2 separate regions of the Homo sapiens genome follow, and region 1 is linked to region 2. Evidence: fine-mapped expression QTL. A gene starts in region 2. The other region holds a variant in brackets. All regions are shown on one strand. Distances are between the middles of the regions. Region 1 has its middle 45 kb from the start of CPA3. Region 2 holds the start of CPA3 (carboxypeptidase A3).

Evidence for each region. PIP is the estimated chance that this variant, and not a neighbour inherited with it, causes the effect.
Region 1: its variant is the best candidate, but not a certain one, in a credible set for the expression of CPA3 in whole blood (INTERVAL, PIP 0.70).

The regions. Positions count from the first base shown.
Region 1 is chr3:148,908,592-148,911,515 of GRCh38, reverse strand. No RefSeq gene overlaps it. Among named protein-coding and RNA genes, the nearest start is that of CPA3, 45 kb to the right of the region's middle. The variant T/C (reference allele first, on the strand shown) is at 1,299.
Region 2 is chr3:148,863,797-148,866,673 of GRCh38, reverse strand. It overlaps CPA3 (carboxypeptidase A3), which reads right to left and starts at 1,378. Exons shown (of 11, transcript NM_001870.4): 1 at 1,299-1,378; 2 at 1,126-1,201. The coding sequence starts at 1,366.

The DNA.
Region 1 (2,924 bases), 45 kb before region 2:
ATTCTGTTAATGAGAAACACTTACTTGGGATATTGAAAGTGGAAAATTAGGAGAAGGTATTACTCTCTGACAGCAGGTGGGCAGGTAAATGGCAAATGGTAGTCATGAGGTTTACTTTGACTCCTGGGCATTCCTTTGTGAATCATTTGCTTTGGTGCTGCAGGGAGCTGACATCATCAGCGGTGGTTTGCTGTGATTCCTTCAGCCTTCTGACCTCTGAAAGCCAGACCTTTGCTCCCACAGATCAACCCATAATTTTGTAAGTATTTGTATTATTTTACTGCATTTAAGATGCCATCAATTCTGTCAAGAAAGAATAAAATGCTACCAATAAGATTACAATTTTTTATCTTTAAGATTTTAATTCTATACTTAAAAGGCTCTTTTAGACCTACTTAGACAAGTTTTCAAAAGTAAATATCACAATTTTACATGCATATAAATGCAAATATGAGCACAATACATGTGTTATTTCACATGTAGAATTTTGCTCTTGTGAATCTTTTTTTTTTCCAGTTAGAGACATCAGTATCTATATTTTCCCACTCTTCAGGAGGCACCAGGAGCATTGGTGAAGGATTATTTCTTTAAAGAGTGCTCCACCATTAACTCTTGCCTTTTCTTCCAAGCTGCTAACAGCTATTCTGAAAGTTTTGCTGGTGTTATCTTGATTTTATCCGTCTTCAAAGAATTCTTAAATGGTTTGTTGATTCAAAATGTGAGAATTTGCAATGGTTTAGATAAACCAATGGGAATGATTCTGTACTTCTCAATGAACTTGTTCTTTCCCCATCTTAATACATGTTCCTGTAAAGCACCAAGAACGAACCTGATTAGTGGTTGTGTAGGGCTCCTGGATATCTATTCTGGAAGATTTTCTGTCAGCTCAGTGGCAATCCATCTGTCAGTTTTGAGCATATCTTTGGGGAAAGATCTCATTTTTGGGTATCATTTTGTAAATACCTGAAATTAAATATAAAATGCATAGAATGTACAACACCCAGAGTGAAGCTAATCTAAATTGTGGGTGATAGTGATGTGTCAATGTTGGTTTATTGATTGTCATAATGACACTACTGGTGCAGGATATTGTTGATGGATAAGATTGTGTGTTGTGGGGGAAGGGAGCTCTGCTTTGTGTTCAGTTTTGCTGTGAACCTAAAATTGCTCTAGAAGATAAAGTCTATTAAAAATTAAATATAACAACACTGTTATTGTCAATTATGCATAGCGTTGTATGTATAGGCTGGTTTTATTTATTTATTTATTTATTTTGACGGAGTCTCGCTCTGTCGCCC[T/C]GGCTGGAGTGCAGTGGAATGATCTCGGCTCACTGCAAGCTCCACCTCCTGGGTTCACACCATTCTCCTGCCTCAGCCTCCCGAGTAGCTGCGACTACAGGCACCTGCCATCATGCCAGCTAATTTTTTTGTATTTTTAGTAGAGACCAGGTTTCACCATGTTAGCCAGGATGATCTCCATCTCCTGACTTTGTGATCCGCCTGCCTTGGTCTCCCAAAGTGCTGGGATTACAAGAGTAAGCCACTGCGCCCGGCTGTATAGACTGTTTTTTGTAATCTGTGTCATGATCTTGATCTCTTCAGCATTGGTAGTATAAGCACTGGGGTTTCTTTAGCATCCTATATTTGACCAAACAAACTGCTGTATTATTTTTCTTAGTTGAATCATATGTTGCTGCAAATTAACTAACTTCTGTTTATGGTGAGTAAAAAGTTTCTGACAAATTGATACTTAGGGCCTGGATGACAGCATGAATTAATCACACAAGCTTCTTTTTCATCTCTTCTGGTTAATTTGATAATTTTCCCTGCCTTCATTTCCCTCCTTAATTCAACTGAAAGCACAGTCTGAGACAAAGATGTGAATACGTATTTAGGACGTGATCACTGGAAGCAGTGACCCTCTAGGGGGATTAACTTCATCCCTGGGGGCATTTACTGTCCCCCACCCACCACTTCTAGGCTCTTTGAGGTAGAAAAGCAAAGCAAAGATGACCTTAGTTTTTGAGTACAAAGAACAGTGATGAAGAGAAAAAGATGGCACTGGAAAGCACTATGCTGGTATTGTTCTTTTTCCATGTTACTTGCCAGATCAAAATGTATAAAGTTGAGACAGCATGATTTTACAGCGTATGCTTTCCCATCCCATATGCATTTGTGCCTCTTTAACAACTGCTTGGGTTGAATGCTTTCTGTCTATCTTAAATGTATCTACTCTACATTCTCTGATTCACTCCAAACCCCTACCAGCCCATAGTAAGCTATTTTTTATTTTTTTTGAGACCGAGTCTCGCTCTGTCATCTAGGCTGGAGTGCAGTGGTGTGATCTTGGCTCACTGTAACCTCTGCCTTCCAGGTTCCAGCACTTCTCCTGGCTCAGCCTCCCAAGTAGCTGGGATTACAGGCCAGCACCAGCATGCTCGGCTAATTTTTGTATTTTTAGTAGAGACAGGGTTTCACCATGTTGGTCAGGCTTGTCTCAAACTCTTGACCTCAAGTGATCCGCCCTCCTCGGCCTCCCAAAGTGCTGAGATTACAGGTGTGAGCCACCACACCTGGCCAGCCTATAGTAAGTTATTAATAATTTGGCAGTCTCATGTGGAAGTCAGCCCCTAGTGAGTCTGGTTAACATGCACTTATTTGGAAGAGACTGTTACTCCAGATGACATTTCTGCACATCAGTTCTGGACTGTGGTCACTCCACCTAGGTGTTGCCATCCCAGGAGGCCCTGCTGAAGCAGTCTGCCAGAATCAGCCCTATTCTTACTATGTCCAAGATGTGTTAGGTGCTATGGGGAATTAAAAAAAGTCTGCGTGATAATGACCAGTTTCCAGGAGTTTAGAAGCATGCTTGGGAATAAATCTGCATGAGGCAGTTTACTAAAGACAGCAACTCAAACTCTGGGA
Region 2 (2,877 bases):
GTAGCTATGACTATTATCCCCATTTTATAGCAGAAGAAATTGAGACCCAGAGATGTTGAGTAAGTTGCCTAAGGCTACAGAGCTAGCGTAGAGCTTGGATTTGAATGTAAGCGTTTGACTTTGAAGAAAATGCTTTTTCCGTACTAGGCTGCTTCTTAGTAATGACCCTCAAACGGAGGAATGCAATTGTCAAGTTTTAGAGTGAGCAATCAGGTTGCAATGCAGAGTTGGCTTTGTGGGAGTCAAGACTAGAGCCCTGATTGCTAGTTAAGGGACTATGGAAATTCTCCTTGCAAGAGGTAGAGTGAACATGAACTTGGCAGTGGCAGTGGAATGGAGGGCAATGTGTGGATTTGAGAAACATTTGGGAGTTAGAATAGGCAGGGCCTTTGATTGATTTGATGTAGAGGTAACTGTATGTTTGACTGGAATAAATCCCAGACCCAGTTCTGGGTTTAAATTTGATGTGTAATCTTGGTCATTTAATTTATTGTCTTTGCACTTTAGCTCTTCTGTTTCAAATGAGTTACATTATAACCCTGACATTGAGAATCTGCTGGAGAATTTGAAATGGCATATATAAGGTGGCTGGTGCAACATAAATAGGAGCAGCTGAATACATGATAAAATTATATTAGGCTGTTGGATTTTAAAGGATTGATCTAACTTTAAAAGTCTTATTTGAAAATGTACCTGCTCTTGGAAAGGGTCACATCTTGATATTAGCCAGTGCCTCAACGTTTTCAGTTAGTACTCAAGAGAAATTATGGCACCAGAGGAGATGAGGGTCGGAGTGGGGAGAATGGAGAGGGAATGGCACCCGTAGGCAAGAGAAAGATGCCCTGATAAGGAGGCCAAGAACAGCTCCTGATTTCATAGTTTTACCTTGAAAAAGCTGGTGTTTGAAAAGCTTTTGGGAGGAAAAACAGAAGTGGTAGTCTTGGAAACCAAGACCAAAACCAGAACAGGTGAAGTATTGGCCATTGGCTGAATTATCCAGATAGCTCCTGCTTTCCCCTTATGTTCAATAGTCTTTTGTAGTCCCATGGGCATTGACAGTAAAATAAGAAGAAGCATCTTTTAGAGAACAGTAAGAAAAGATAAAATATCCCTCTAAATGCTTACCTCATTGGTTTTGGCCAAGTCCTTTATGATGTCTGCTTGTTTTTCATCCTGGGGCTTCACGCGGAACACCTTCTCCCTTTGTGGAGGCAAATGAAAAAAAAAAAGTGAACTGTAAGGAAACAACCTTTAATTCTCTTCTACACAGAGACTGGAACACAGGAAGTAAGATTTACCTGTCAAAGCGGACAGGAGCAATTGCAAGAGTGGTAGCAATCAAACCCACAGGCAGGATGAGCCTCATGGTTCTTCTTTGCCTGCCTTGAGACCCTCTGGCAGTTTTATGCCTCAGCCCTTATCTTGATGAGCAGCTGATTTCCTCTTAGGGTTCTGTTGCACAAACTGTTCCCCTTCTTCCCCCACACCAGGTTTTTTTTTTCCAGCTGGAGAGGGAAAAACACTAACCCACCAAGCACATGCTACTTATCTACCTTTTGCAATAGGAAATACCCATTTTACAGATACAGGATGGGAAGCAAATGCCTTTAGCAAATAACTTGGCCAAGGTAACAGAGAAAGTATGTTCACAGAGCTGGGATTTACTAGTTCTATCTGTTCTAAAATACTACTCTACCATTCTGCTTGAATTGAATGATGGAAGAAATTAGTTTTAAAATTTGCACTTGGAGACTGAGATGAATTTGGGTATCTGGCCATAAAATCTTGGTGAGTGGTTCGTAATAATGTAAAATATATTTTTGAAGCTAGAATGTAAGTTGTGAAATTAAAAACATTTAAATTGACTGGGCACGGTGGCTCACGCCTGTAATCCCAGCAGTTTGGGAGGCCGCGGCGGGTGGATCATCTGAGGTCAGGAGTTCAAGACCAGCCTGGCCAACGTGGTGAAACCCTGTCTCTACTAAAAAATACAAAAATTAGCCGGGCGTGGCGGCAGGTGCCTTAATCCCAGCTACTTGGGAGGCAAAAAAAACCCCAAAAATTTAAATTACAAAATATAAATGTACTAAAAATGCTGTAAGTACTATGGCGAACATTGAAATGTTCACCATTTAGATTTTACAATGATAACATTTTTGTTATATTTTTCCTGTACTTCTCTGGGTAAAGAAATAAACACTAAAGACCTAAAGCACTGCCCTAACTCTTTGCCCTTCTCTTCTCTCTGTCCTCAGAGGTGACCCCTATTTCTAAGGCAACTTGAGAACTACCTGACAGCAAGAAAATATCAATGCTGTAATGTTTATTAATTGGACACTGTCTTCAGAGCCTGGATGCTGTAATTGCCAAATAATGCCTTTTGAGAGTTGAATTAATGAAAGCCACCTATAGACCATTCACAACCATCTCTGGAGGGATGTTTAGTCTTGAACACAACTTGGTTAATTATGGGAGAATAACACCTTTACCTAGAATCATAGGTAACCTAAAAGAGTAAGTGAATTTATCTAATCAGTTAACTTATTAGAATTTCCTTTTTGAAAACCACCTCTTCACATTGACAAACGTATAGCTGACTGTAGATAAAACTTCTCAGAGTCACGCTTATGTACTATCAAAATAGTGTGGTTGGAGACACGCCCCTGTTATATATACAGCAGCAGTAATTCCATTCTTCTCTATCTGATGGGTGTGTGGTAGAACTCGGGACTTTTTTTTATTTCCCCAAATGGATTTTCCGGCTCCAGCCTTGCAGGTAAGGAAGAGGAGGGTTTTACAAATGCCTTCATGTTCTTGACACTGGGCAAGCTCACCAGCACTGAGAACTCCCAAAGCAAATGCTTGCTCCATTGCTTT